Linked DNA regions of Homo sapiens: region 2 is linked to region 1. The links come from fine-mapping of genetic effects on gene expression. Tissue or cell type: whole blood. Region 1 holds a variant in brackets; the other region holds the start of a gene. All regions are shown on one strand. Distances are from middle to middle.

Region 1 (16,047 bases):
GTAGGTCAGAAGCCTGACACAGGACCTGGCTATAATGATGATGTCAGCAGGTCTGTCTTCTGGAGGCTCCAGGGGAAATTCTGTTTTCCTGCTTATTCAGGTTACTGGCAGAATTTAGTCCTGTAGCTGTAGTCATCATGTTCTTGTGAGCTGTCAGCTGAAGTCCATTCCCAGCTTTTAGAGGCTACCATGTTCTTTGGACGGGAGCTCTCTTTCTCCGTCTTGAAAGCCAGCAATGGCAGGTCAGGTCTCATTTCCTGTCTCTCTCCTGCCTCTTCAGTTGTTCAATACCTCTGACTTCAGCCCTAAGAGATTCTCCATTGTTATGGGATTGTGTAATTAAATTTGAAAGAGTCCTGCAGTAACCGAGGATAATCTCCCCATCTCAAAATACGTAACCATATCACATTTGCAGCGTCCCCTTTGCCACATTCAGAAACATTTACAGGTTCCAGAGGTTGGGGTGTGGCCATTTTATAGGGCCATTATTTCACCCACCATGCTGCCATATTGGACAGTACAACTTTACACTGTATTATCTTTTAAACGGTGAAATTTTGAAGTGATAAAATTCTTAAAGTTCTTTTTATAATTTTATTATTGTCATTTTCAGAGCTCTTCATTTATATGTATAGATCCACATTTAAGTTTTAACATTTCAGTATAGGCCTGAAGACAACGAATTCTCTCAGCTTTTGTTTTTCTGAAAAAAATCTTGCTATGGCCTTCATTTTTGAAAGCTAAATTATTTCTCAATATGAAATTCTGGGTTGGACAATTTTTTTTTCTTTCAGTAGTGTAAAAATATCACACCATGGTTTCCGTTGAGAAGTCTGCTTTAATTTTTATCTTTTATTCTCTGTGTGTAATGTTTTTCTACCCTCTGGCTGCTTTCAGGATTTTCTCTTTATCTTTGGTTTTCAGCAGTTTGAATATATTGTCTAAATTCTTTTTCTCCCTTTTCTTCTTTTTCTCAGTATTTTTTTTATTCTTTATGCTTATTCTTTCGTATCATATTCTTAATCATCCTAGTTATGGGTTATTTAGGCTTTTTGGATGTATGGTTTGTTGTTTTCATTATTTGGGGAAAATTCTTGGCCATTATTTTTTTCATGTATTTCTACTACCCTGTTTATTCTTCCTTTTCCTGCCGGTTCCTTGTGCTTATGGCGGGGACTGGGACTCTGGGGGCTTTTCTCAGTGCTAGTGCCCCTGCTCAGCTTGCAGCCTCCTGCGCCATAGGCTGGGGGAGTCCCTGCCCACCTCCTCACCGCCCCCCTAGCAGTGGGCTGCTGCTGCTTCCCCCACAGGGCTGGGCTTCTGGATGGGGTGGGGAGGGGAGGGTTGCTCCATCTCCTGGTCCAGCCTCAGTCTTGGCGGTCCCTGTGTTTCCAGCCCCTCCCCCATGGCAAGGGACTGAAATTTTATTGGTGTGGGATTTTGGTCTCAGGACAGTTTCCTGCCTCCCCTGGGGTAGAGGGTGTCCTCCTCTGTTCTTCTCCCGGCTGCAGGGTGTTTCTGTCTGTCCCTGTGGTGACATCTGCTGCCCTTTCCCTATCAGCTTAAAGCCCAAGGCTTTGCTCAGGGGGAGGAAGCTCTCAGGGAGAGTTGGCTTCATGCCTGTCCACTCTGCTTACACGCTTGGGGCACTTCTCTGGCCTCGTCCTGCCCCTCATGTGAGCACCTGGTGCGGGCCCATGTTAAAGAGCCTGTAAGTGAGTGTGGACTCCCTCAGCCCATCCTAATTCAAAGGCAGAAGATACACATGTAAACAGGCAAACAGGGCATTCTAGATTATGACTGTAAAGAAGGGTGGGGTGGGCAGGACAGGGACACCGACCTTAGGTAGAGTGGAGGAACAGCCCAGAGGTAACACTGGTGCGGTGAGTTGAAGGTTGAAAATGACCCTGTCATCTTGAGAGTTGGGTGTAGGGAGGGCTTTTCATGCTGAGGAGATGGCAAGTACAAATCCCAGGGGCAGCAACGAGATGGGGCAGTTCGAGGAGGAGAAAGTTTACCGCAGGCTGAAGCGGAGTGAGTCAGGGGAAATGGTGTAGAGGGAGGTTGGAGAGTTGTGAGTCAGATGTCCCTGCAGTCTTTTGGCCATGTTAAGATGCTTGAATTACATTGCATGAGGAATGGGAAGAACTTGGTGATGATCTGAATGTAGCTTCCTTTTGCTTGCTAAGTGAATTCCAGTCTCTTCTGCTTTGTGTTCAAGGCCTAGAGTAACCTGGTTGTAGAATACCTTTTCCATCCTATCTCCCACTCTACTAATAGATGAACAGCAAGGTTGGCTTCCTGCTCTTAGGTGAGTCTTATGCATTTTCCTGCTCACCTTGTCATGCTGTTCCCTAACTGGAAAGGACTTGTCCCTCTCTGCCTGTCTCTGTAGGCTTTAGTCAGATGTGCTGCTGCCACGAAACTTCTCCCAGGCATTTCCTTACCTCCATCTTCACCAGTTGTTCCCACATCTATGTGGTAGCTTCTTGAGTATACCTGTTTATCACACATTATTTGTTTAATTTGTTTAATTAATTTTTAAATTTGTTTTATTTAATTAATTTTTCTGTCTTGTATCTTTATTCTGGTTCTCTCTGCCAACTTTCACTACCTGTTTATAAACACACTCAACCCTCCCATATCCTAAAGAAGACTTCCCTTGCCCTCCTTTCCCCTGACTCTGACGTCTTGTCTTTCTCTTTTACTTTACAGCCATATCCCCAGGAGAGCGCCTGTATTTGCGGGCCCTGCGCGTCCTCATGCCCTCCTTCACTCCTTACTGGTATATGATAGGGTTTTTACCTCCAGAACCCCGCTGACACTGCTTTCAGAGATAATGATGTCTTCCTAGTCCCAGTGACCACCAAGCCCAGGGACCTCTTGTTAATTTTCATCTGTGTATCTGAATGTGATATTCAACACTATTGGCCACATCTTCCTTTTTAAAAGTTTCTAAACCCCCACTTCCTGGCTGTTCCACTATCACATGTTTTGTCTCATCTTTCTGATTTCCCCTTGTTTCTTTTTGTTTCTAGCTCACCCCTAAGTGTAGGGATTACCCATCCTTCTCATGTCAGACCTCCCCTCTCCACAGCATATTCTCTTTGGCTTATCATTTATGTCCTTTTACAAAAACAGCTCTCACCGCATATTCCCAGATCTGTGCCTCTAGCCCAGACCTCTCTCTAGAGGGAAAAAAAAAGAATGTGCACGTACACTTAATGTATCATAATTTTCATATTGCTGTGTAATCTTTGTAATTATTTTAAATGGATGTATAATGTTATGTTAAGTGGCTGTGCCATAATTAGCCTAACCATTTCCTATTGAAAATTTCTTGTCCTGAATTTCCAGCTACAGTTTACAATTCTGTGCATGTATATTGAGTTTGAGATTGATGCCTGAGTTCAGGGTAGCATTTTAACTCTTGCACAAACTACTGAAAAAAGCCTTCTGAATGGCCTCCTGGTCTGATCTCTTGACCTTCTGGCCGAGCATGATCTCAATTGTTAGAAAACAGGTACTACTTATGTTCCTAAGGCCCAAAAGAGATCTGAAGTTTTTCAGCTGACATGTCTCTGAGTAAATCTGAAAAGAGATTTATTTGGAGGTTCACCTTCAATCAAGACAGGATTTTAAGCACACTCTGAGCTGTGGTTTATCATCCCTACTACTTACCATAAGAATATGCTTTACCACACTTTATTGGCAACTAAGATGCACTCTTGAGCCTTTTAATCTGTTTGCTTTTAATCTGTTACTCTCTAGAAGTAATCCTGAAAAACAGCTGACAGTGATATTTCAAACTCGTTGGTGCTCTTCTTCAAAGAAACATAGAAGCCCTAATAAATAGATTTGTGCCTTGGAAAATAAAGTGTCAGTGACTTCACATAGAACACAGGAATCTTAACTTATACTTCCCCAACTATTCTTTTTTTTTTTTTTTTTTTTTTTTTTTAACAAAGTGGCCCCTGTGGTCTTTCTAAGCTGTTCTTGACTCCCTAACTGATGAAGAGTGCTGGCTTTCCTTTCGAAGCCCAGGTCAGTGGTCTGACAGGGGCAGTGCTGCTGATTTTGGTCCCTCTCCTGAGTGTGCTTTGTATCTGTTATATGAAGTCGTGTTTGGATTTTTGATGTGTTGATACCTCAGAGTTTCTGCTTGATTTTCAGTCATTACCGGTAGCACACTGACAAGTGGGAGAATACAGTTTTCAGTGGCTGCCTGACTCCTATTTTGAATCTTTCTCTTCCCTTCCCAATCTGACTGTAAGTTCTCCCTGTGTAAGGAGAGAGGGTTGTGTTTCAATGCTGGTGTACACCAAGTATGTCTAAACTTAGTAATGGTAAAAACAAACATGCAAAATGACAACATTTCTGGAATCAGGGTGGTGAATAGAAGCCAGTGTACTTCCTCTGAGGCAGAGGCTCGCGGGGGGTGCTGGTTGGTGGGGTTGGTGGGGAGTGATCACATTGCATAAGCTCCATGTGAATCCTTGGGCTGCCTTCTACTGCTTGGTCTTTCTCTTTGTGTCCTCTAATGTATTTTATATTTAATTCACCTTAACAACAAATTGCCTTTAAAATGATGGAAAAGCACAAGTGCTAATGGTGAACAGCTGTCTCCTCCTTCTCTTCATACCAATTTTATTTCTGCTTTGAAGCACTATGGTCTATGCATCCTCTTGACTATGTTGTAGATATAGCCACAAGGTTTGATGATTGTGCTCTTTTCTATAGATAAGAGGACAAGAGAAAATAACTCCAGTCACTCTTTAATAGATAGATTTAAAATTAATCAAGATGAGGGTAAGTTTAAAAAACTATTCCAGGTATTTCATTATCTGAAAACCCAAGGGTCTGCTGCCTTCCACTCTAGGGCCTTGGTTCTCGAGAGAAGGTATTTGTCTATAATTCCTAGCCTGATGGTTTAGCTGCCCACTCTGAGCTGTTCAGCCCCAGATCTTGAGAATCAAGGGGTGGAGAGTGAAAAATGTATGGAGAGGCAGGCACCTTGCTTTCACTTCCACCTCTAAAATGATAGTGCAGTATTCTTCTCACATATGCCTGCCATCGTCCTTCTGTTTGCATCTCTCACATCCCCTCCACTAGCCTCTCCCCTCCTTACAATAAAAAAAAAAGTCCTTGAATTTAGACTGATCCAAGGTCCAGGGTCATCTCACTACCTCCTCCCCTCCCAAGCACCAGTGGTAGAGTGGGCTTTATCCCTTGAACAAGGACAGTGAACCTGTTAAAGAAAGAAGATCCAACAAAATCCAGAAGAATGAACACAACTCAAAAAAGACTGTCAGGAGTATGTTCTCAGCTGAGTGCTGAGTGAGATCACCATTCCCCATGATCTCAGGCAGTAGAAGAGCCTTGAGAATGTGGAAGACAGGCCCAAATTCTGCCTTAAAGGAAATATTACTCCAGAAACACAAGTGTTTTTAAGTGCAGAACTAAAGATCATAAATGTATTTAAGCAAGAGTTCAAACTTAATATGAGACAATAAAATGAGATGAAATGGGAAATATGGAACTAAGGGAATAAAATGAGAACAAAATACTATCAGTCCAAAACTAATGAATAAATATGAAACAGTAAAGAATTTAATGGTGTGACAATTCAGTTGTCAACATAAGAGAAAAGCTTTAGAAAATTGTAGAGAAAACAAAAGGTAAAAACCTTTTCCCTAAATAAAAGAACTTTATTCCAAAAAAAGTTGACCAGAAAACGTATATGAAGATATCATAGAAGAAAAGTTTTCTGAGGTGTAAACCAAATTGCCAGAAAACAAGGGAGTATGCAAAGTTTTGAAGGGAATAGCACCAGTCAAGTGTTAAAATTAAATAGATAACTAAGTATAAACAACGATACAGATAAAATGTAAGTGTTATAAGCTTT[G/A]ACAAATGAGAGAGGAGGTCATCTATATGTAAAATCAAAACGTGTAGTTCAAAAGTTCCATTTAACATATGTGTTTTTCCAATTCTTAACTCCCAGTAGATTTATAGAAAATAGTTTCTCTTATAAAGAAATATGGATCTTAAGTTTAGCAATTCCTTTATCTTAACTTCAATGTCATTTTCTTTTAAGTACAAGGTTACAGTTTTTGTTGTTGTTGTTTAAATCACATACAGTATTTCTGGGTTGAAATTTTGCATTTTTCTTTGGAGTATAAGACATTATTTAATTTTGAATAACATAACTTTATCTAAAAATAAAAGTTTATCTTAAAATGTTTGTGAAGCAGAGCAAAACAGGCATACCTACCCTGTCCAAGACTCTGGTTGAATAGGTCCTGGATGGGGCCTGACATGGGTAGATTATTTTTAAGTCCATGGTGTTTCAGCTCTGCTAGCTTCTCATCCAAGTGGTTTCTCATCTCTGTTTTTGTATTTATTTTAATAGCCTCCTGGCTTTCACCTTTATGATACCCACATCTAGCTTTTGGAAGTGGATAGAGAGACTACTCAGCCCAGGTTGATGAGCATCATTTTTCACTTTGCCTACTTGCCTGATAGAGTTAATGAGAGTCAAAAAGTGCATCACTGACTTTCTTACATTCATCTTAATAAGGGAAAACCAGTGGGAAAACATCATTTCATGAGTGAGTGGATTGGAGAATAAAAAAATGTTTGTTCAACATTTTGTAAAAGTGAATAATACTGATACTTTTTTCTATTGTTCTTTAGCTCAAATATTTTAGTTATGAGACCCCCTTTTGTTTTTTTTTTTATTATGGTGGGTAAATATATCTTTAATGGAATAGTATGCATTTTTTTCATTAAACTATGATATGAGAGCATATAAACTGATGTCACAATATTACTAGAATATTTCTAATGTAAATTTTATTCTCAATAAGTAGTTATTACAGTGTAGACATTTTGGTCTAATATGAATTTCAAATATGTACGTTGCAACAGCTATTTGAAAATAGTGGAGAATTAAGTAGTTGGCTTTCTACAAATAGAGTAATATACGATTGAATATTTTTTGTTCATATGCCCAACAATCCAACAAATGGAAACCAAAGTAAATCATGGCAAGTAATTATTGCTCAAAAATACAGTAGTTGATAGATTGTGGGCACTGTCACTTAAATACTGATTTATTTCCAACACAACTAGAAATTAAGGTGATTTCATTTCTCTTGCAATAAGTTTTACCTTCTTTCTGCCTATCTCCCTACCTGCCTACCTGCCCTACCTATTGCTAATGACAAAGAAACATAGCCATTGAATATTTTGTTGAGTTAAAGTGGTGATTTTTTTTAAACCAAGGCCCATTACAACCTTATGACTTTTTAATTTTGTTGGTAAGAAACCACAAATAAGTGGATTATTTTAGTTTCATAATTTTCTGTTCATTGATATAATTGCTACATCAGCAATACTTCATGGCTGTCCTGACTATGGTCTGCTCTAGAAATTATATTAGCAGCCCCTTTTCTCCTGAAAATATCAGTTTTGCATACTTAGAAATTTGCTGAAAAGTTTGTTTTAAAAGAACCTTAATGAGATAAGACAGTCAAATACTCAGCATTAAAGGGTTGAATTTTCTTCTTTTTGGCCAGCCTTCTCAGACTGTTGTGTAGACAGAGTCCTCAGGTATTGCTACCAAGCCAATCTAGGTCCATTTGTCTGCACACAATGAAAAGCCAAACACTGAATCACTGGATTTTTATAGAGAGAAAGATTAATGGCAAGGCAGCCATGCAGGAGATGGGCTCAATTCTGTCTTCCCTTACCAGCTTAAAGCAGTATATAAAAGGAGGAGATGCTGGAGGAGGAGTTTTGGGGTTGGTTAATGATTGTTGGAAAGGGAGGGGAGGTTTGGAAAGTCCCTTGAGCAGGCACAGTTGTCTCTTCGTGCTTCCTCATGGGTTGCCTTTGCAAATTCGGAGGGAGTTGGTGTGAAACCTGTGGTGAAAATACTGGCTTTGATATCAGAAAGTCCCTCATCTGGCAAGAAGTCTATTCTGTGCAGATCCCAATCAGCCATACCAGTTCCAACCAGCTTCAACCAGTCAACCAGTTTTGTTACAAGCAGAGGGAGTTCTAACAAGCTGTTTCTTTATCTGCAGTGCTGTAAGACAAGCTCAAAACTTCTTGTTAGTTACCAGTTTCTTTAACCCCATGGAGCACTGTTTAAGTATGATAGTGAAAAGGGGAAAGATAATTCAGTTTTGAAAGATCTAGTTCCAGGATGTTGATTATTCAAGAAAGGAACATAAGCATTCTAGAAATGCACACTTAGGTCTTTGAATGAGTGTTTCAATAGATTTTGATTGGCATCATTGTTCAATTTCCGGAATGCAGAAGTGCAATTTTATTTAAAAAATAGACTTTCCTTAAATACTTTCTTCACTTGTCATAATGTCCTTATGATAGTAATCTTAATTTTCAAAAAATTATAGTTGGTGTATGTACAATGTTACCAATTGTTTGTTGTTGTTGTTGTTTTTTCCAGAAATCTTACAGGCTGGTGTTAAAGGAACTTCGGAATCCCTTAAAGGTGTGAAACGCAAAAAGATCGTAGCTGAGAATCACCTGAAAAAAATACCAAAATCCCCACTGAGAAATCCTCTTCAGGCAAAACATAAACAAAATACAGAAGAGTCATCTTTCGCCGTTCTTCATAGTGCTTCGGAGTCTCACAAGAAACAGAATTATATTCCTGTAAAAAATGGGAAGCAGTTTACCAAACAAAATGGAGAAACACCTGGAATAATTGCTGAAGCCTCAAAATCTGAAGAATCTGTCTCCCCAAAGAAGCCCTTGTTTCTGCAGCAACCATCTGAACTGCGTAGATGGAGATCCGAAGGCGCTGATCCTGCCAAATTCAGTGACCTCGATGAACAATGTGACTCAAGTTCCTTGTCAAGTAAAACCAGGACTGACAATAGCGAATGCATCTCTTCTCATTGTGGCACTACGTCCCCCTCCTATACAAACACTGCATTCGATGTCTTACTGAAAGCAATGGAGCCAGAACTGAGCACCTTGTCACAAAAGGGCTCACCTTGTGCAATTAAGACAGAAAAACTGAGGCCAAATAAAACTGCACGTTCCCCTCCCAAATTAAAAAACAGTTCAATGGATGCCCCAAATCAGACTTCACAGGAATTGGTTGCTGAATCACAGTCTTCTTGTACCTCATACACAGTCCATATGTCTGCTGCTCAGAAGAATGAGCAAGGGGCAATGCAGTCAGCTTCTCATTTGTATCATCAACATGAACACTTTGTTCCCAAATCCAACCAACATAATCAACAGCTTCCGGGGTGTTCAGGTTTCACAGGATCACTGACAAATCTGCAAAATCAAGAGAATGCCAAACTTGAACAGGTTTATAATATAGCAGTGACATCATCTGTAGGCCTAACTTCACCTTCCAGTAGATCTCAGGTTACTCCTCAAAACCAGCAAATGGATTCTGCTTCACCTTTGTCAATAAGTCCGGCTAATTCTACACAGTCGCCCCCCATGCCAATCTATAATTCAACTCATGTTGCCTCTGTTGTTAATCAAAGCGTAGAGCAAATGTGCAATCTTCTTCTGAAAGATCAGAAGCCAAAAAAACAAGGAAAATATATTTGTGAGTATTGCAATAGAGCATGTGCAAAGCCTAGTGTGCTTTTAAAGCATATCCGCTCCCACACTGGAGAGCGACCCTATCCCTGTGTGACTTGTGGATTTTCATTTAAGACTAAAAGTAATCTGTATAAGCACAAGAAATCCCACGCACATACTATCAAACTGGGTCTTGTCTTGCAACCAGATGCTGGTGGCTTGTTCTTGTCCCACGAGTCCCCCAAAGCACTTAGTATTCATTCAGACGTAGAAGACAGTGGGGAGAGCGAGGAGGAAGGCGCCACTGATGAGAGACAGCATGACCTGGGCGCCATGGAGCTGCAGCCTGTGCACATAATAAAGAGGATGTCAAATGCTGAAACTTTACTAAAATCAAGCTTCACTCCAAGCAGTCCAGAAAATGTGATAGGTGACTTTTTGCTACAGGACAGATCTGCAGAATCACAAGCTGTGACAGAGTTACCGAAAGTTGTGGTCCACCATGTCACTGTGTCCCCCTTAAGAACTGACAGTCCAAAGGCCATGGATCCCAAGCCTGAACTTTCTAGTGCACAAAAGCAGAAGGACCTTCAGGTGACAAACGTACAGCCACTTTCAGCCAACATGTCCCAGGGTGGAGTCTCCAGGTTGGAGACTAATGAGAATTCCCACCAGAAAGGCGACATGAATCCACTGGAAGGAAAGCAAGACTCTCACGTAGGAACGGTACACGCCCAGCTACAAAGGCAGCAGGCTACCGATTACTCCCAAGAGCAGCAAGGAAAGCTCCTGAGTCCTCGAAGTTTAGGAAGTACGGATTCTGGTTACTTTTCACGTTCTGAAAGTGCCGATCAAACAGTGAGTCCACCAACTCCCTTTGCCAGAAGGTTACCCAGCACAGAACAAGACTCTGGAAGGAGTAACGGACCCTCTGCAGCTCTTGTCACCACGTCAACACCCTCTGCTTTGCCCACAGGGGAAAAGGCATTGCTTTTACCAGGTCAGATGCGCCCACCTTTGGCCACAAAAACACTTGAGGAGCGGATATCGAAGCTTATCTCAGACAATGAAGCTTTGGTAGATGACAAGCAACTGGATAGTGTGAAGCCGCGGAGAACCTCACTGTCAAGACGAGGAAGCATTGATTCCCCCAAATCATACATATTTAAAGATTCTTTCCAGTTTGATTTAAAACCAGTGGGACGGAGAACAAGTTCAAGCTCTGATATACCGAAGTCACCTTTCACCCCTACTGAAAAATCAAAGCAAGTGTTTCTTCTGTCTGTACCTTCACTTGACTGTTTACCTATCACAAGAAGTAATTCCATGCCGACCACAGGTTATTCAGCAGTACCTGCAAATATAATACCTCCTCCTCATCCACTAAGAGGAAGTCAGTCATTTGATGACAAAATTGGCGCTTTCTATGATGATGTCTTTGTATCGGGACCTAACGCTCCTGTGCCCCAGAGTGGGCATCCCCGTACACTTGTGAGACAAGCAGCCATAGAAGACTCTTCAGCAAATGAAAGTCATGTTCTTGGTACTGGACAGTCCCTGGATGAGAGCCACCAAGGATGCCATGCTGCTGGTGAAGCCATGTCAGTGAGGAGCAAGGCACTGGCACAAGGCCCACATATAGAAAAAAAGAAGTCTCATCAAGGGCGAGGGACAATGTTTGAGTGTGAAACTTGTAGAAACAGGTATAGGAAACTGGAAAATTTTGAAAATCATAAGAAATTTTACTGTTCTGAGTTACATGGACCAAAAACAAAGGTAGCCATGAGAGAACCTGAGCACAGCCCTGTGCCCGGCGGTCTGCAGCCTCAGATTCTACACTACAGAGTCGCTGGGTCCTCCGGCATCTGGGAACAGACGCCCCAGATAAGAAAAAGGAGGAAAATGAAAAGTGTTGGGGATGATGAAGAACTTCAGCAAAATGAAAGTGGAACATCTCCAAAAAGTTCTGAAGGCCTTCAGTTTCAGAATGCTCTGGGCTGTAATCCCAGTTTGCCTAAACATAATGTTACCATAAGAAGTGACCAGCAGCATAAAAATATACAGTTGCAAAACTCCCATATTCACCTTGTTGCCAGGGGCCCTGAGCAGACCATGGATCCCAAGCTGTCGACCATCATGGAACAACAGATAAGTTCAGCAGCCCAGGACAAGATAGAACTGCAGAGACACGGAACTGGAATCTCTGTCATCCAGCACACCAACTCCCTGAGCAGGCCCAACTCATTTGACAAGCCTGAGCCTTTTGAAAGAGCCTCCCCAGTTTCTTTCCAGGAGCTGAATAGAACGGGGAAGTCCGGGTCTCTAAAAGTGATAGGAATCTCCCAAGAGGAAAGTCACCCTTCTCGGGACGGGTCTCATCCTCACCAGCTTGCACTATCAGACGCTCTCAGAGGAGAACTTCAGGAAAGCTCCAGAAAGAGTCCAAGTGAACGACATGTGTTAGGACAGCCCTCAAGACTTGTCCGGCAGCACAACATCCAAGTTCCAGAGATTTTGGTCACAGAAGAACCAGATCGAGACCTGGAAGCTCAATGCCATGATCAAGAAAAGTCAGAGAAGTTCAGTTGGCCCCAGCGTAGTGAAACCTTGTCAAAATTGCCAACAGAGAAACTGCCACCCAAAAAGAAAAGGCTCCGTCTGGCTGAGATAGAACATTCCTCAACAGAATCGAGCTTTGATTCCACTCTCTCCAGGAGTCTAAGTAGGGAGAGCAGTTTATCTCACACTTCAAGTTTCTCAGCCTCTTTAGACATAGAGGACGTTTCTAAAACGGAGGCTTCCCCCAAAATCGATTTTCTAAATAAAGCCGAGTTTCTTATGATTCCAGCTGGCTTGAATACTCTGAATGTTCCTGGATGTCACCGGGAAATGAGGCGTACTGCATCAGAACAGATTAATTGCACGCAAACGTCAATGGAGGTCTCTGATCTCAGAAGCAAATCATTCGATTGTGGAAGCATCACCCCACCCCAGACAACACCACTTACTGAATTGCAGCCTCCATCTTCACCTTCTCGAGTGGGAGTGACTGGGCATGTGCCTCTCTTAGAAAGAAGGAGAGGCCCACTGGTACGGCAAATATCTTTAAACATAGCCCCAGATAGTCATCTGTCTCCTGTACACCCAACATCTTTCCAAAATACTGCTCTTCCCAGTGTGAATGCAGTGCCATATCAGGGGCCTCAGCTCACTAGTACATCTTTAGCTGAGTTTTCTGCAAATACTTTGCACTCTCAGACTCAGGTTAAGGATCTGCAGGCAGAAACATCAAACTCCAGCTCTACCAACGTTTTTCCTGTTCAACAGCTCTGTGATATCAATTTGTTAAATCAAATCCATGCACCGCCTAGCCACCAGAGCACACAGCTATCTCTGCAAGTGTCTACGCAGGGTAGCAAGCCAGATAAAAATTCTGTTTTATCTGGGTCTTCTAAAAGTGAGGATTGCTTTGCTCCCAAATACCAATTGCATTGTCAGGTTTTCACTTCAGGCCCATCTTGCTCTTCTAATCCTGTGCATTCTTTGCCAAATCAAGTTATTTCAGATCCAGTTGGAACAGATCATTGTGTGACATCAGCAACATTACCAACCAAATTAATTGACAGCATGTCTAATTCGCATCCTCTGCTACCACCAGAGCTCAGGCCCCTTGGAAGTCAGGTGCAGAAGGTGCCATCATCATTCATGCTGCCCATACGCCTGCAGAGTAGTGTTCCTGCTTACTGTTTTGCTACACTCACATCCCTGCCACAAATACTAGTGACCCAAGATCTGCCCAATCAGCCAATTTGCCAGACTAATCATAGTGTAGTGCCAATCAGTGAAGAACAAAATTCTGTGCCAACATTACAAAAAGGTCATCAGAATGCTTTGCCAAACCCAGAGAAGGAATTTCTATGTGAAAATGTTTTTTCAGAGATGAGCCAAAATTCTTCTCTATCAGAATCCTTGCCCATAACTCAGAAAATATCTGTTGGTCGACTTTCCCCTCAACAAGAATCTTCAGCTTCGAGTAAAAGGATGCTTTCCCCAGCAAATAGTTTAGACATTGCCATGGAAAAGCACCAGAAGCGGGCCAAAGATGAAAATGGAGCTGTTTGTGCAACAGACGTGAGACCTTTAGAGGCTTTGAGTTCGAGAGTTAATGAAGCTAGTAAACAGAAGAAGCCTATTTTAGTGAGACAGGTTTGTACTACAGAGCCCCTGGACGGTGTGATGTTGGAAAAGGATGTTTTTTCTCAACCTGAAATTAGTAATGAGGCTGTTAATTTGACAAATGTTTTACCAGCTGATAATTCATCAACAGGATGCTCTAAATTTGTCGTTATAGAACCTATAAGTGAATTGCAGGAATTTGAAAACATCAAGTCATCCACATCATTAACTCTTACAGTTCGAAGTTCACCTGCTCCTTCAGAAAATACTCATATTTCTCCTTTGAAATGTACAGACAATAACCAAGAAAGGAAGTCTCCAGGGGTTAAAAATCAAGGTGACAAAGTGAACATCCAAGAGCAAAGTCAACAGCCAGTCACTTCTCTTTCATTGTTTAACATCAAGGACACCCAGCAGCTGGCTTTCCCTAGCCTGAAAACTACAACCAACTTTACATGGTGTTATCTCTTAAGGCAGAAGTCGTTGCATTTGCCTCAGAAGGACCAGAAAACTTCAGCCTATACTGATTGGACAGTAAGCGCCAGTAATCCAAATCCACTCGGTTTGCCCACAAAAGTTGCACTTGCTCTCCTTAATTCAAAACAGAACACTGGAAAATCACTATACTGTCAAGCAATAACTACCCATTCCAAGTCAGACTTATTGGTCTATTCAAGCAAGTGGAAAAGCAGCTTAAGCAAGGTACTTGAAATATAATTTATCTTCAGATATGGTTTGCGCAAATTTGTTTCCATGTGTCTTGATACCTTTAAATATTTTAACTGGAAATATTTTAATTTTGAGTGACAAATTGTGCTGTAAATGTCTTATTTGAAAGACAGGGTGATATATTTACCCCAGGAGTTACATTGATAAGAGTTACCAAGAGTCTTGCAGTGATTCTATCTTGAAAGATTTTAGAAATGATTTACCCTGAGCACTTTTCTTTTTCTCAGCTAACTATATAAGTCTTTACTTAGTAGTACAGATGATCATGGTTTTACTTTGATGTTTTACTTATATTGAGGTTTTGTTTTTCTTGTTAAGTGAAAGGAAATCATGGTTATGCTTTGTTCCTCCTCATGCAGGGAAACAGGTGTAGATAATCAAAGATAGTTGTATTTCATCCTGAAATATAAGCAGAAAGCCATTTAGACTTGTCTTGAGCTTACTAGCTACACGCCCCTGTCATGCTATGTAGCTGTCTTCCAGTGTAGCTGTGAGAACCATTAGCACTAGAGAGAAGTTTCACAAAATAATTCATATACTTGGTAAGTTGATTTGGTCAAGATTTATAAAGTAATTTAAGGTCATGAAACTGTAACTTGGGGTAATTTGTGGAATCAGTCTCATTAGAATTATCAGCTTTATAAAATGGGAAAAAGTCATTTACTTGATTAGAATAATAGGTAAGCATATCACGTTCGACTCTGCATATTCAGAAGTATTTGGCCTCTGCAGATTCATAAGCATGCAACACAGGTTAATAAACATTTACAAATCTGTCAGTAGGAAAATACTGCAGTATCAGTATTACCATAGAATTATGAACAATTCTAAAGAAGGAAGTTTCTAACATTACTGGTAGGTGGAAGAGAGAAGAATTCAGCAAACATACTCCAAAGGTGGTGATACTTTAGCTAACTGTTCAAATTTTTTTTAAAAAAATAGGGATTTTTCAGGCAAAGAAGAAGCAGCTTTTTTTTTCGAGACAGAATCTCACTCTGTCACCCAGGCTGGAGTGCAATGGTGCGCTCTTGGCTCATTGCATCCTCCCCTCCCGGGTTCAAGCAACCCTCCTGTCTCAGCCTCCTGAGTAGCTGGGATTACAGGTGCCCACCACCACGCCTGGCTTTTTGTATTTTTGGTAGAGACAGAGTTTCGCCATGTCTGGTTTGGCCAAGCTGGTCTTGAACTCCTGACCTCAGATGATTCACCCATCTTGGCCTCCCAAAGTGCTGGGATTACAGGTGTGAGCCACCGCGCCCAGCAAGAATAAAAAAAAAAATTAATAATACACGAAATGACATGGAAATGAGAATAAACTTGGTTCATTTAAAGAACTCTGAAGAGTCTGGCCTGGTTAAAAAGAGTTATAATTTGGAAACATAGGTAAAAATCAAATCATGTGTATGGTGGTGGAGAACCAATGATACTTTCTCAGTGAAGGAAAGTGCATCCAAACCACCTGTGGAATTTGTTAAGTTCTCAGGCTCTAAATCTACTAAATCTTGGAAGTTAAGACCTAATAGTTAGAATTTAAACAAAACTCCGTGTATGTTCCTGAAGTGTTTG
Region 2 (16,047 bases), 110 kb before region 1:
AACTCTATCTACAATTCTATGTAAATATACTCTTGGTATCTGCTATGAACTGAATTGTCCCCCCAGCATCCCAATTGATATGTTGAAGCCCTAACCCCCAATGTTACTGTATCTGGAGATAGAGTCTTTAGGAGGTAATTAAGGTTAAATTAGGTAATAAGGGTGGGGTACTGATCTAATGGGATTAGCGACCTTAAAAGAAGAGACACCAAAGAGCCAGTGCTCCCTCTCTCTGTATAAGCACTACACCTGGGAAAGGCCATGTGAGGACACAGAGAGAAGGTGGCAGTCTACAAGCCAAGAAGACAGGCCTCGGAGAAAGCCAACCCTGCTGATGCCTTGATCTTGAACTCCCAGCCTCTAGAACTGTGGGACACTGTATTAACTCAGGGCCCACTGGAACAAAAATACCACCTTGTTAGATCACAGATGAGGTTGGGTCATTTTCATTGAATGCTATTCTTCCTCTAGGGTTCCTCAGTATGCCACTTGTGGACATAGCTTATGAGGAATTCTTTCAGGAACTGCAGGTATCAATCACATCTAGTTTTCTTTCCCCTCTTCACAGATAGTACACCAAATAATATCCATTAAACTGTCGTTACTTGCCATTGAAAGAGAGGCTTTTCAATGAGATGTGGTTTGCTCTAATAGCACGTCTCCTACAGGTAACAGTATCAGTACTGGCGTAAATGTGAATTAAATCATCCTTCTAAAAACAAGACATGGTTAAAATCAAACACATTTTCTCTTCTTTTCCTTAAGCCTCACACCATGCCAGGATGCCCATCATTTTCATGACACATCGAAATTTGAAAAACTTTAAAAAATTCCCTTTTCTTATTCTCTCCATTGATGTAGAATATTATAAAGTTATTGAAATCTGGTTTTCACAAAATATAATCTTTAAACTTTGAGCATCTGAATATTTTCTGGATCCCCATCATAGTTCTATCATTTACCAGCTCTGTAGCTTCCGGAAGACTATGTAGCATTTCTAAGCCTCTGTTTCTTCATCTACAGTGTGGGTTTATGGCGGGGACTAAATGAGTTTATATAGGAAAACCCGGCAAGTCGTAAGCGCTCAATAGCTGTTAATCACTACCACTACCATTATTACAACTGCTAATGTTACTGCAGTTTTTGTAACCAGCCTCCATATCGATCCTAAATCCATCAGTAACAATAACTTTCCTTAAAAAGACCATTCTCAGGCCAGATGTCTCCAAATAGCTACCAACTGTTTGTAATATCATGTCTTAATTCCTTCCAAATGATGACTGAGTAGGCTCTTCTCTGGTTGCCTGTTGCCTGCCCATTCTGTCTTCCTAGCTCATTACGAGAGAACCCACCCTTCCCAATGGCCCCGGGGCAATCCAGGTGTACATCTCTCATCTGAGCATGATTTTTTTTTTGAGACGGAGTCTCGCTCTGTGGCCCAGGCTGGAGTGCAGTGGCGTGATCTTGGCTCACTGCAAGCTCCGCCTCCCTGGTTCACGCCATTCTCCTGCCTCAGCCCCCCGAATAGCTGGGAATACAGGCGCCCGTCACCACGCCCAATTAATTTTTCTATTTTTAGTAGAGACAGGGTTTCACTGTGTTAGCCAGGATGGTCTCGATCTCCTGACCTTGTGATCCGCCCCCCTCGGCCTCCCACAGTGCTGGGATTACAAGCGTGAGCCACTGCGCCCGGCCCTGAGTATAATTATTAATACCTTCCCTTTCACTCTCAAGTGTCCTGGCATGGGTGTTACTTGTTTCCCATTTGCTTAGACTTTCTGCTCTCGGTGGAAAAACCATCACACACAGTTCACTTGCTCTCACCTTCAAGTTATTTCCCTCCTCTAGAATGCTGTACTTCCACCACTGCCAAATCGTGAACTTTCTCTCCTTCAATATCCCACTGAGAACTCACCCCCAGGATGGGACTCTGCTCACCCCGTCCTCTACTCAAGCAGAAGCCTCTCAGCGATCATGTAAATAACTGTATAACTTTAATTGGCTCTGTTTATAAGCCTCTTATATCTTTTTTTCCCTCTAGGTATTTTTCCATGTGTTTATCCTGTCTCCATTAATTTGTAATCTTCCAGAGGGCAAGGCCTGAACACAAGCTTCTGTTGGTGTAAAGTGGAGGCACAGGTAAGGCTGATTGCTAGACACTGCCGTCCTTCTTTATTAGTAATCTGTTAAAAAAAAAAAAATTCTTTGTTGTAGTGTTTTGTTAGTGATGGTCCCGAGACTGCTAACCTAATGAAAAACTATATCCAGTGTCTGCTAGTGTCCAGACAAAAGAAAATCAACAGTTACAAGCTTTTCATAACGTGAGGGGAAAGTGTGCGGATATTTTGACCCATAAGGGAATTTATGGTGTATGGAAAGCATGTTATAGAATTTGTTGCCTTTAGATTTTTATTCTTGTCTTTTCAAGGCTGCAGGACTGTCTCAGAAGGGAAATAATATTTACCTTCCAAACTGAGATCTAAAACCCGAACAAAGCCTCAGGAAACATACTCCACCACCATCTTACAAGTTTGTGCTACGGGTGGAGGGAAAATGAATCTAATGTAGGAGGCCTCCCGCTGTGCGTCTAGCAGGAAAGACCATACGGTGCAAGTCTCCAGGATCACTAGAGGGGTGGATTGTTCATTTCAGTCCAGGTAGCAACAGGAAGCCCGTGCAAATGTTCCTCTCTCACTGCGGGGCTAAGGAGTGTGGGTCCTTTCCCGCGACTACCTGCTTGCCTCTCTCAGAACCTGCAAGTGAAGTGCGGAAGATCTGTCTATCTTCTCGGCGGCGCAGAGCCCAAGGTAGAAACCGATGGAGGCGGTGCACTAGATAACATCAAAGCCCCGGGCAGGGGCCAGAAAGGGGGGCACAGGCAGCCCGGGGAATGAAGCGCCTCCCTCTAGCATTTCCTCTCACGCCCACTTCCAACCTAGGAGGCTTTTGGTTTCTGCTTTTTTGTTTTTAAAATTAAAAGTTAAACCCAGGAAGCTTTGGATCAGACTTTTGTGTTGCAGTTCGGGTAAGTTTTTCTCTCGGTTCTTTTGTCTGGCGCCTGGCTTGGGAAGAGCCTGGGCGTGGGGCAGAGTTGGCAGGGCGTGCGGGGAAGGTTTTGTCGCCGGGTTGCCCAGAGGAGGAGGGGATTCGGCCGGTGGATGGGAAAGCCCAGCGCGCGCGGAGGGCGGAGGGCGGAGGGCCGAGGGGAGGGACGAGCGGCGTGACCCGGCGGCCGGCGGGGAGGAACCTCCGGGATCTCCGCGTGGCGGTGGCGGCGGCGGCGGCGGCGGCGGCGCTGCCGGGCCGCGCGCTGGGCGGAGGGCCGGGGCCGCGGGGCCGCGCCAGGGGGGTGCCTGAGCCGGGCCCGGCCGGGCGGCCGCGTGGGAACCCGAGCCGTGGACGCAGCGGCGGGGGCGGGCAGGGTGGCGCGGGGCCCAGTGGACGCGGCTCCGGGGTGGACTTTGTGCCCTCTCCAAACTGTTCGCCAAGAAAAACGTGTGTTGAGCTTTTCAGTGACACTATCCTCCCTCGAACCCCACTTTCCCCAAGGGGGGCTCCAGAAGCGTTCACGCGGACGGTGGGGATGGAACCATAGAGAAATGGACCTCCAGGAGCCCCCTCTTTTTTGGGGGCAGAGAATGGTCACTTGCTCCTGCATTGTCCCAGGATTTTTGACAGTTGAAACTGCAGTTTACCATTCACATTCATCCTCCACATTCACCCTCTGCTTCATTTTTTTCCCACGCTGTGTTTATTTGATACATTTTGAGAAAATATATTGGATTTGCCACAAAACAAGCCTAAAGAAGCTACTTTATAGTATAGCCAGGTTTCCCTGCATCCTGATATCTGGGAAGAATTGTAGGCAGAATTAGGAAAAGAAACTGCATTTAGAAAATTCAAAAACTTACTAGGAAACTATTCTGTATTGTATATATTTCAAATAAAAGTTTAATATCGGTTTGCTGCTCAAGGAAATAGTTGAAATGTCAAAATTTACCTATCGTAATTCGAAATTGCATGTATGTTTTGTTAGAAAGTTCGTAGTAATGCTGAATCCTACATAAACATTGTGTTGACAGTATGTTGTGCTCAACAATTATTGGGTTAAACGTTATTCATTCAGTTAGCATTTTTCACTTCCAAAGTGATACAAACTTCACTCATTATCACATTACCTTTCTCCTGACAGATTAATAGCTATACGTTCACAGTTAAATGCATGTTTACTTTTGGATTCAAATAACCCAGTTGGGAAGTTACATTATATACTTTTTTGGTGATTGCAACCTATTGGATATCATTTCATTTCACAAATGAGAGATGGTTATAGCACAATGAAAATAAAAATTGCATTATTTCATCGTAGGGTTAGCATTAGTATGCTAGACATAATTGTACATGTACACAGTTGGATGATCTTTGCTTTTATAACCAAATTTACTTTGTAGTAGGCATATTTCTCCCTTTACATGATATTATTTTTGGCTACACACTCGCCATTACTGAGTATTCCATTTTTAATCATTCCCATTCTGGTGGTTTGAGCTTTTCTTAGCTCAAATGAGCCAGAGGTACGATTTCCTCAGGGGAATTTTAGGGGTCAACTCCAGCAGGAAAAACCTAGACGTCGTTATGGAAGCCCAAGGGAACAAAACAATTCAAGTTTGCACAGATGGCCAGCTGTCTTAGTGGTTGTATGGTCGTTTAGCATTTTTATTCCTTAAAAGGGGAAACCAGTTTAGTTTCATCAGGGATTTTTTTTTTTTTGCATCAATTTTGTTTCACCTTATTCCTCTCAAGTTTGAGGTGGCCCGTTAAACCAGCCACTTTTGCTTCTTGAGGTGGACCTGTGGAATTTCTGTGCCCCAAACTGCGAACGTTCTTTAGGTCTAACCCTGAAAACCTTCGTTACCCTGGTCCAGCCCCTCTTCACTGCTTTGCCATGGATTTCCACTCCTTGCTTTCTCTACTGCTTTCTAGCAGCCGGGGTCACACCTTGGTTCATGCTAATTACTCCCTCTTCCCCTTTCACGCTCTCCCCTCTTCCCTGGAGCCCGGTCCGACGACCAGCCCCGCACCCCCCTTTTCTGTCCCCGAAGTCCCCTCCCGGGTTGGCCCTATAAGCTGTCAGGCTGGCAGGCAGGGGTTAATTGCGCTCGCAGCTTCGGCACTGGGAAGCACCAGCGGGGCTTTGGAGCGGCCTCTGGAATAACCTTGGCTTTCCTCGCTCTTTTAATAGAACATCCGCCACCAAAAAGTGGTTTCAGTTCAGGGTTAACATGTCCCCTTCCACTCTCCAAACCAACACCCTGCCCCCTCCGTTTTTTTAAAAGTTGTTTTTCAAAGTTAATGAGTTTTAAGTTTCACAATGACTTTCCCCTTCCTTCTACGCGTTGCTGAGGAAACCCCCTTGGGGTCCCCCCCCCCCCCCGCCTCCCCCTCCCCCATTCTGCCCGGGCGAGGGGCGGGGCCGGGAGACCCCATGACGTCAGCGGCCGGCCCACATCCTGCTGTAGAAAGTAAAGAGACGGTAAAGAGAAACTACGGCCCCGCCCGTCCCGTCCCTCTTCCCGGACCAACCGCCCCCAACTGAGCGACCCCGCCAGGCCTTCCCGGGGCCGCGTGACTGGCCGGGCCCGCCCCTCCGCCCCCGCCGTGTGCTGGTTCCCCAGGCGTCGCGACCCAGGGCTCCCGCCCCCCGCGTCCCTAACCCCGCCCCTCCCCCCCGGGCTGCGCTGCCACCTCCTCCCGCGTCCCCCTCCCGTCCCTGCGGCGGCTCGGCCGGGCGGGGCGGGGAGGGGCGAAGCGGCGGGTAGGTGGCGGGGCCGGCGCGGTCTGGGGCCCGCCCCGCCGGGGAGACCCGGGGCACTGGCTCCGGGTTCGTGCCGGGCCGGGCGCCCATCCAGTCCCTACACCCGGTCAGAGCTGGCGGCCGCGCCGGCCCAGCTGGGCCCCGGCGCCTGGGCGTCCCGCGCCCCTCGCCCCGGCCTCAACCCCAGCCCCCGCGGGGACGCCCCCTCCCCCGCCCACGCGTCGCCGCCCGCGGCCTCCCCTCCTCCCGCCCCCGGGGATCCCCTGCCGCCCCGCCCACCCGCGGGAAAGCCTCCGACCTTCGCCCTGCCTCCCCCGCGCCGCCCGGCCCGCGTTCCTCCCGCCGGCCCCAAAGACGCTAAACGTGCCCTACTCTGCCCCGGGGGAGAGGTAAAGCCCGCGCCCGTCCTTCCCGCCCCGGGCCCCGCGGCCCCAGGGTCTGTCCGCCCGCCCCGCCGCGGCGCGCGCCCCCCAGCCCGGCTGCCCGGCTCCCTGGCGGCCGCGATCATGCCGTGGCTCCGGGCGCCGGCGAGCTTCGCCGCCTCCTCCGCCCGGCGGCTGCGGCCCCCGCCCGCGCGCCCCGCGCTCCCCCCCCCGCCCCCCGGCCCGCTCCCCTGTTTAATATTTCAGTGCTGGGTGGTGTGAGCGCCAGTCGCCGGCCTTCAGCGTGGCGGCTGCTGGGCGGCGGCAGGGTGGCGGACGGAGCGGGGGACCGGGGAGCGGCGGCCGCCGGAGGAGGTTATGTTTGTGTTTGGGGTTGTCAAGTGAAGGAGGGATCCCAGGCGCCGCCGCCGCCGCCGCGCGGGGGTCGCGGAGATCCCGAGCCGCGGCCGCCGCCATCAGCAGCGCAGCTCCAGGGCCGGCTGCAGCGGCAGCGGCTCCGCCGGGCGTCCTGGCAGCAGGTTCGGCGCGGGCTCCGCGGCGGGGGCGCTGCAGCTGGGGAGGGCGGCGGGGCGGAGGGGGGGGGGGGCAGGAGCACATCCCTTCGGCGGGCGGGGGGCGTGCGGGCGCGCGTGTGTGTGTGTGTGTGCGTGTGTGTGCAACCGCCGACCTTGCAGAGGGGATGGCTGCGTGCGGGAGACCCTTGGCACTTCTGGGCGCCCTCGCCGCGCGCGAGCCGAGCAGGTACAGAGGGACCCAGCCTCCCCAGCCGCCTTCCAGCCGCAGACGCATTTTGCAAGAGGGTGGGGGGTGAAAGAGACCAGGCCTCGGCATCCCAACCTCCCGGCTTTGTGGGTTTCTTTCCCTTTCGTTCTTTGCTCTAAGTGCCTGTTTACTCCCGGCCACCTGGGTAGTTTCTTTCCGGGTTGGGAGTGCGCGCCAGCTGCAGTTGGGAAGGGGGCGGTGGGTTGGGGTGCGGGTCGGCTCGGGCTCGCCTTGGGGTCGGGCTCGGGAAGGAGTTGCTGGCTGGAGAGGGGAGGGGGCGGCGGCGGAGCAGGCGGCGAGGAGGAGTCTCAGGGCTGCCGCGCTCGCCTCATCTCGTCCTCCTCCTCCTCAGCTCTCTGCATCCACTCCAGGCTCCTTCCTGAGCTGGCACTTCCATTCCCCCCCTCCTCCTGGCATGCGAAGCGCTTTGTTCAGTGCAGCGTTGCAGAGGGGTTTTCCCAGGCTCCGCCCTCCACATTCATTCATGTTTTTTCTCCTTGCAACTGTCTTTACGCTTTTTGATCGTGTCATGTTTTTGCTCCATGTAGTATTTATTTCTTTCCCGTAAAGGAACGGTTTATCACTCGTCCTAGTCGCTACAATGCTGCTGTCTTTGGAAATACCCACTTCCCCCCACAAGGATTTAAATATGGGATGGACAGCTAGGGACAGTGGGTAGGCAATGAACGGGGTAGCAGAAAGCCTTTACGGACAGGGAATGTGCATATTTTACATTTATGCTCCGGATCCCATGGGATCACATGATTGGATTACAGTCAGAGTTCACGCTTTAAAAACTTCCAAATATCGTTACCATTTAAAAGCTTTAAGTTTAACAACGAACGTAGTTAAGCATTCATGCAATTTATTTGGTTCAGCTGTGTCTCAATTCTTTATTGAATCAGAACCTTCCTGAATTAGATAGTGGATGTTTCTTTAGAGCAAGGAGCTGAGAAACCCTATCTTTTATAGATCACTTAGCACAATGCTAGATGAAATACTTAGACCATCATTTTTTTTTGTATTATTTTACCATGTAGTTAAAAATTGCAAATAATTTTGTGCTGAGCTGACATACAGCCAGATCAGGGATAAAATACTGAAGTTAATCGTGGCCTTCTTTACCTTCTGTTTCTTTGCTGTAATGAAACCATAAATTTCTAAAACCTTATACTGGGATGTTAGACACATTCCTTCCCATATAGGCTTTCTTAAGGAGAATTAATAGTTCAGCGTTTTTGTGTGACAGGCAAAGCGTCTACAATGTTTAGTTTAGTCCTTATAACAACCTTCTGATGTGGATAATATTTCCTAATTTTACAGTTGGGAAATCTGATCTTCAGAGAGGTTAAGTAACCTGAACAAGGCCACACAGTAAGGGGTAAAGCCTGGCTTTGAACCCACTCCGGTTTGACACCAAGATAAGTCGTCATGACTTGCTGCGCCTCTTGAAAGAAATCCTGAAAGTAGATGTTATCAGCTCCACAAAATAAGCACTGGATATAACTGAGTCATGCAGTACCACATTCTTTAGTTGTTTATCTTGGACAAGTTACTTATCCAATTTTTTTTTAATCTGTAAAATGAATAAATGATAGCTACCTTCTTAGTTAACAGATTAAATTAGGGAATGTGTAGAAAGTACACAGGCACATAGTAGGTGCTCATAAGTGTTCTCTTGTCTTCTACAGTACCACTAATAACAAAAGCTTTAAGCCTTCCTTACTGTTCTATTCTTGTGTCTTTGCTTAATGACTAAACATTGTTTCATGTTTAACAGTGACAGTGGGCTTTGCTTCTCAGTTTTCTTGCAGTAAGTTAAAATTTCAGCTTTAAGATCCTTGAGAATCTTGTGGAAGAGCCTGAGGTGGCTGATTTGGGGAGATAGGTGATTCGGTTTTGGGTCATTCTTATCTTGGCCTATTATATTTCAGATCACTGTGTTTTAAAATCTGTAAGTCAGGACAGGCTAGGTTGTGCTGCAGTAACAAATAACTCTCAAACCTCACTTATTTAAGCAAACAAAAAGGTGTTTCTGGCGTATGCTGTGTGATCACGTGGGTTAGCCAGAGCTGACTTTGTGGTGGTGTCAGATTTGCTGTCTGGAGCAGTGCTGATCCCATGGCAGAGAGAGAAGAGCTCTGGAGGATCATGCTGTGGTAATAACTAAATGCTCCAGCCTGGAAGTGAAGTCTCATCCGCTCACAGGTCGTTAGCTACAGCTCCTCACACGTTCCTGGGAAACACAGGGAAGCAGAAAGTGTGGTCCTACCATGAACCTAGAGGTCTGGAATAACTGGAGTAGCCACAGTAGCAACCCCTTGTATTAACTGAGTTAACTCTAAAACAAGATGAACAAGACATTGTCCCTGCCCCTATGAATGGGCAGATTTACTATACATGCCTAACATAATCCTTTTGTAGCCTGATGCGATACTTTACTTGTTCCTGGTATTGTTGTTTTAAAACACAAAGTGAGTTTTTTTACTCTTGTCTGATAAAGATACGGTGTTTTTTTTCTGTTTTCTTAATGAGAAGTCCCGATACTGACAAAATGACCTCTGTTTAATTAAAAGTTAGTAATCTTTTGCAGTGGTGCCCAGCTTGGTTACTTTTTCTTGAGTTTAGGTTAGTGCTCTGCTAGGCAGTAACTTTTAAAGTATCTTTCTCCTCTGAAGGTAGTAAAATGTGCTTCTCCGTTTTTTTCTTTTTCAGCACATGGATTAATTGATGTATGTTGAGTTTATGGAGCTGCCTTTTGGTGGCTTGCTTTATCTGCAGTTTTTAAGAAGAAAAAGAAGGCCCTGAGTCAAAGAAGATGCCTCGAACTAAACAAATTCATCCCAGAAATCTAAGAGGTAAAGCATTGCATTAAGTAGAAGTAAGGCTTGCTGTAAATCTTTTAACAAAGTATCTCTTTGGTGACAGGAATGGCCGTTTGTTAGATGTTGACCCTGCCTGGTGAGGAGCGCTATTTCTCTTGCTCATTTCCAGCAGTCCTGCACAATTCCTGTCTCTCAGGAGATACTTAATAAATATCTGTTGAATGAATGAATTGAATTTGACGAAATTACAGTGCATTCCTTCCAAACCATTAGATGGGGTATTAAAGGCTGAAAGTTGCTATTTGTTAATAGGAACCATATTTGGGTCAAGGAATCTGAAAGTAATGGTTAAATATTCTTTGCCAACTGGATCATTAAGAATTTTATGTTTTTTTTTCACTCTTCCTCCATAGTTCTTTTGAGGTTTATTTTTGTACCACTCCATCAGTTAGATTAACAAGATAAGAAGTGAAGAGAATTGTAGGCATTCACTCAGACCATTACTTGCAGAAGTCAGAGGCAAACTGAGTTATTTTCCACGAAGAAGCAGTGGGTCACAAATATATATATGATACACATTTCATGCAAAGACAGAAAAGTGTGTGTTTTCCATCAACCGCGAATACTTTTAATAGTAGAAAAGTAAGTGTATTCTAGCTTATTGTTTAAAAAGATTTGTATTGTTCTCGTGTTATATCAATGGTGAATAGCAATTATCTTTTATATTAAACTTCAGGAGATAAGAATGTAGTAGTGCTAAAAACAAGAACTATTAAAGCAAATAATTCCAAACTGACTATGGTGTTTTATGAAATATTTACCATTACAGAAAAAAAATTCTGAAGCGTATGTAGGGGAGAAGTGACTTAAAAATCAAATAAATTAATTTGAAATGTTTTTTGGTAAAATCAATTTGGCTAGTCACCATAAGGTGATCTTTGAAAATGCAGTCAATTTTATGGCCTCCGTGAATCTGGAAATAGTGCTTGTTTCCTGTCTAGAAATCTCTGTTGCCTCAGGTGGATGCCTCAGCCTAAGTTCAAATTGATGATTGTAGTAACCAGTGTTCAATGAGGTGGAGATTTACATGAGAACAAGTGTGGTGTGTGGAAATCTGATTTTTTATAGTCATATAGAAAACGTTGAAAATTGAATGTGTTTGCCCGTCCCCCTCACTAGAATCTGAACTCCCTAGAGACTCACTCTCATTTGTTACTGTAGGAAAAGCCTCCAGACCCAAGGGTACCAGCTGAGGTGGGCATTTGGAGACATGGGCCCTGCTTTATCTGTCCAGGGAGGGCACCCTGTTCTAGTTTGCACAAGTGCAGCATACAGATGAGCAGCAGCCCTAGCCCAGCACAGTTCCTGGCAGCTAATGGCAGCCCAAATATTTGTTGAAGGAACGAGTGCATGATTGATCTGAAGGTGTTATTTATTAGGCCATAAGTATTAAACATTTTTCATATTTAAAATATATGTTCATAACATTCTAGATAAAATGACTATCCTGAGAAACACAGATTTACAGGCCATAGGCTCTTTTCCTTTCTGTATCAAATAAATGTTCAACTCAGCACATGTTTGTTACTGTGTCTGGAATTGGTGGGTTCTTGGTCTCACTGACTTCAAGAATGAAGCCACAGGCCCTCGCCGTGAGTGTTATAGCTCTTAAAGGTAGCGTGTCCACAGGTTGTTCCTTCTGATGTTCAGATGTGTTTGGAGTTTCTTTCTTCTGGTAGGTTCGTGGTCTCGCTGGTTCAGGAGTGAAGCTGCACACCTTTGCGGTGAGTTTTATAGCTCATAAAGGCAGTACAGACTCAAAGAGCAAGCAGTAGCAAGATTTATTGCAAAGAGCACAACAACAAAGCTTCCACAGTCTGCAAGGGGACCCAAGCAGTTGCAACTGCTGCCTCCGGCAGCCTGCTTTTATTCTCCCGTCTGGCCCCACCCACATCCTGCTGATTGGTCCGTTTTACAGAGAGCCGATTGGTCTGTTTTACAGAGAGCTGATTGGTCCATTTTGACAGGGTGCTGATTGGTGTGTTTACAATCCCTGAGCTAGACACAAAAGTTCTCCAGGTCCCCACTAGATTAGCTAGATACAGAGTGCTGATTGGTGTATTTAAAAACCTTGAGCTAGATAAAGAGTGCTGATTGGTGTATTCACAATCCCTTAGCTAGACATAAAGTTTCTCCAGGTCCCCACTAGACTCAGGAGCCCAGCTGGCTTCACCCAGTGGATCCCGCACTGGGGCCACAGGTGGAGCTGCCTGCGCCTTGTGCCTGCACTACTCAGCCCTTGGGTGGTCGATGGGACTGGGCGCCTAGGAACAGGGGGCAGCGCTCATCGGGGAGGCTGGGGCCGTGCAGGAGCCCATGGCGTGGGGGGTGCTTAGGCATGGCGGGCTGCAGGTCCTGAGCCCTGCCCCACGGGGAAGCAGCTAAAGCCCGGCGAGAAATCGAGCGCAGCACCAGTGGGCCGGCACTGCTGGGGGACCTGGCGCACCCTTCGCGGCTGCTGGCTTGGGTGCTAAGCCCCTCACTGCCCGGGGCCTGCCAAGCCCACGCCAACTGGGAACTCTAGCTGGCCTACAAGCGCCACGCGCGGCCCCCGTTCCTGCCCGCGCTTCTTCCTCCACACCTCCCTGCAAGCTGAGGGAGCCGGCTCTGGCCTGGGCCATCCCAGGAAGGGGATCCCACAGTGCAGCGGCGGGCTGAAGGGCTCCTCAAGCGCGGCCAGAGTGGGCACCAAGGCGGAGGAGGCGCCGAGAGCGAGTGAGGGCTGACAGCACGGTGTCACCTCTCATTACTACCTTCATGTACTTCATGTTCTTATGATAGGGATAAAATGATAAAACACAGGTCTCGAAAGAAGAATGGAGTTGAAGAGCTGATAGGTAAACATGTAACTATGTACTATGGTGAGAAATGAATAGTATGGAGATTCCACAGAGATAGGGAGTCATTATTTTGTCCCCATTGTAGGGGGCGCAGTTTGGGGTGAAGCAGAATGATGATTTAGGGAAGGAAAGTTAACACCTGGATTTGGTTCTTAAGGCTGGGAAGTTATCTGCGAAGCTGACAAGGCAAAGTGAGTGCATTTCATCCTGGGGTAGCAGGTTGTGAAATAACTTGGGGACTCTGAGCAACTTTAAATGGTTCTCTACTTCTAGAGCATAAGAAGTTCTCTTCAGGAGGGATGAGAAGGAGACAGAGAGGCAGGATACTGGAGCAGGAGAATCAGGAGGAATCAGATCAGGAAAGGCCCTCAGATTTAAGCCTACATTTCATATGTAGAGTTAAAAGTTTTAATAAGAAAACTTGCTTCTTTAAGATATTTTTAAAGTTTTCAAAGAGAACTTGGAATAAATTGTGTCTGACTTGTCTGTGAGCGTTTAGGAAGTTGTTTGACTAAGGTAGTTAAGAACTCACAGCCACTAAAGAAAAGATTGGAATAGATTAGCTCTAGTAAGCACACTAAAGCCACCTCAGTGGGACTTCTGATGGGGAAGGGGAAGACTTCAGGGAAGCGGCGGCTTCTGAGCCAGTGTAGCTCACTCAGCAGCGGGGGACGGGAGTGAAGCTCTAGGTCCCCATGGGAAACCCTGAGTAAGCAAAGGGACAGAGGGGTTGGTGCTCGGCGGTGACACCTAGAAACTTCCGCGCTCCTCACAATGTCTGTAAGGACTCGAGCCCTGGGAAGGATGTGGGGGTTAGAGTAAGCAGGTAACCATCAGCTCCTGAGATTAATTTTTGAGCGTATCTTTAATATCTCATTGTGACAGTTTGGAATATCAGGTTTGTTGTGCCCTACCTGTGATCCACTGCTTTGCTTTACTAGAAGACATCTCTAATGCGATGAGATAAGAAATGCGGGGAGAGGAAATTGGGAGACCAGAAGAGGAGTCACAGCCCAGTTTGCCCCTACTGTTTCTGCCGTCAGCTCAGGAGCTTTCAGGAAACCCATCGCCTCTTTTTAGGCTTCCTGGGGGAAATAGTCTGAAATGTTTGTCTTGTGCTTGGTAATCAAGTCCGTATTAAAAGGCAGATACCTGATACTTTCTCAAATTATATTTTTCTTATGCTTCCATGGTAGTTTCACCTCTTAGAATGTAATCTTTCTTTGATTTATTCTTGGTTCTCCTGCTGGGACAGATATATCCCTACGGATGTGCAAAGCCACAGGGTAACATGTATCTTTCAGGAATGTGAATTTTACTTGGGGAAAAATACGTATACTTGTCTGTGTGTGCACACGTATACACATATTAAAGTATTAGGCAAGCATAAAAATGTGCAATACCGGAATCTATCATGGAAGAGTATAGAAAGTTTGCATGGATTTGAAAATTAAGCCTGCATAGACTGCTTTTATAAGGAGATGGAGTATCTACTTCTTTGCTCTTAGAGGTTGTTTACTAGAAAAGGTATAAGAAGAATTGTTAGGTTAAGGGCAGGAAACAAATTGGGGACATAAGTGAGACAGTGTCCGACTTGATGGGTGATCTGTATACTGTGTAGGACTGTGGTTTTGTTGAATTCAGTCTCTTCACCCTTGGCCCAGCGTTAAACCAGATAGAATCAGTTCTCCATGCCTGTTTCCCATCTGCAGGAAACGTGGTGGGTGCCGTTTTGACACCGACCTATCCTTTGTGAGGTTGAAGAATTTTGGAAGAGCATGAGAGCAGCACTTGGTGTTCAGAAGAAAGGCTTAGCATGTTGTCCTGGGTTCCGTGGAGAAGGGTCACTGGACTGCACGGGGTGGCTCTTCCGCATGGTCTTGGTGAGTTGACAGCAGGGCAGCGCTGTGTCTCCCAGCCATCATTCCTTACTCATCGCTGCTCTGTGGAGGGGTTATCTCCACCACCTTCTCAGGCCTTCGCTTGGACCCTTGAGTAACATGGAATGGAGGAGTTGGTGACTTGCAGGGGGTTCCATGCCTCTTCCGTTGTGATAAAGGGCTCTATTCGTGTTTTGCCACTCATTCTTGTGAATGTGTTTCAAAGCTTTGAAAAAAAGGAAAAGAGGTGTTACTTACTTTAGTTGTATTTGGGCCTAGGGTTTCAGAGCTTCATTTCCTTTAAGATTGGAAGTCAGTGTGGAAAATACTAAGTATTAACCTTTTGCAAAACATGTTTTGAAAATTTGGTGTAGCTGTTTTTCATTTTTATTGGTTGAGTTCATTTGGCTCCGAACACTCTGCAAAAAATGAGAACTCTTTTCCTGTCTGAGAACCAGATTTCTTTCTTTCTTTCTTTTTTTTTTTTTTTTTTGAGACGGAGTCTCACTCTGTCACCCAGGCTGGAGTGCAGCGGTGTGATCTTGGCTCACTGCAAGCTCCACCTCCCAGGTTCAAGCCATTCTCCTGCCTCAGCCTCCCAAGTAGCTGGGACTATAGGCGCCTGCCACCACGCACAGCTAATTTTTTTGTATTTTTAGTAGAGACAGGTTTTCACCACGTTGGCCAGGCTGGTCTCAAAACTTCTAACCTCAGGTGATCCAACCGCCTCAAAGTGCTGGGATTACAGGCGTGAGCCACCGCACCCGGCCCAGACTCCTTAAAATGTGAGAAGTAGCACTGAGGAATGTGATCAGATCATGGCCTTGATTGACACATGGGGTCGCTTTCCACGGTTGGCCTTCTTGTTCTCCACGGCATCTTGTGCATAGCCATTTGCCATTTCAGGAGCTCAGCATGCACATCCGGTATTTCTGTGCTTGGTTGTCTTTCTGGAAGTTACTTCTTCTCCTTTTCCATTTCTACTGTTTTCTTACTCTGTATGGGAGATGTCTCTGCTAAAGATTTCACCTCTGAGTTTTTTCCCCCATTTTCTGTTCTCTTGTCAGATATCCTCCTCCCCTCCACAGACATGCCCTGGGTCTCCTTTGCTTGTGTCCACATGTGCCTTCTTGTACTTACAATATTACATCATGATCATTCTTCTCCAGGTCTCTTATCTTAGCGGGATTATAATATGTTAGAAGAGACCATTTTGGTCATCTGTGTGCAACAGAAGAATATTTGGTTGTGTTAACTTTTTGTTTTTGAGACGGAGTTTCACTCTTGTTGTCCAGGCTGGAGTGCAGTAGTGCTGTCTTGGCTCACTGCAACCTCCGCCTCTAGGGTTCAAGCAATTCTCCTGCCTCAGCCTCCGGAGTAGCTGGGATTACAGGCCTGTGCTACCACCCCCGGCTAATTTTGTATTTTTAGTAGAGACTGGGTTTCACCATGTTGGCCAGGCTGGTCTTGAACTCCTAACCT

Evidence for each region.
Region 2: it holds the start of HIVEP1, and the variant in region 1 is fine-mapped to the expression of HIVEP1 in whole blood (INTERVAL, PIP 0.98).

Annotation. Positions count from the first base shown.
Region 1 is chr6:12,111,417-12,127,463 of GRCh38, forward strand. HIVEP1 (HIVEP zinc finger 1) reads left to right here. Exons shown (of 9, transcript NM_002114.4): 4 at 8,474-14,454. Among named protein-coding and RNA genes, the nearest start is that of HIVEP1, 110 kb to the left of the region's middle. RefSeq lists enhancers at 2,914-2,963, 7,673-7,722, 7,740-8,034, 7,753-7,862, 7,873-7,982. The variant G/A (reference allele first, on the strand shown) is at 5,906.
Region 2 is chr6:12,005,851-12,021,897 of GRCh38, forward strand. It overlaps HIVEP1 (HIVEP zinc finger 1), which reads left to right and starts at 6,462. Exons shown (of 9, transcript NM_002114.4): 1 at 6,462-6,716; 2 at 9,676-9,818. The coding sequence starts at 9,779. RefSeq lists silencers at 3,320-3,439, 5,387-6,296, 6,477-6,616 and an enhancer at 4,513-5,057.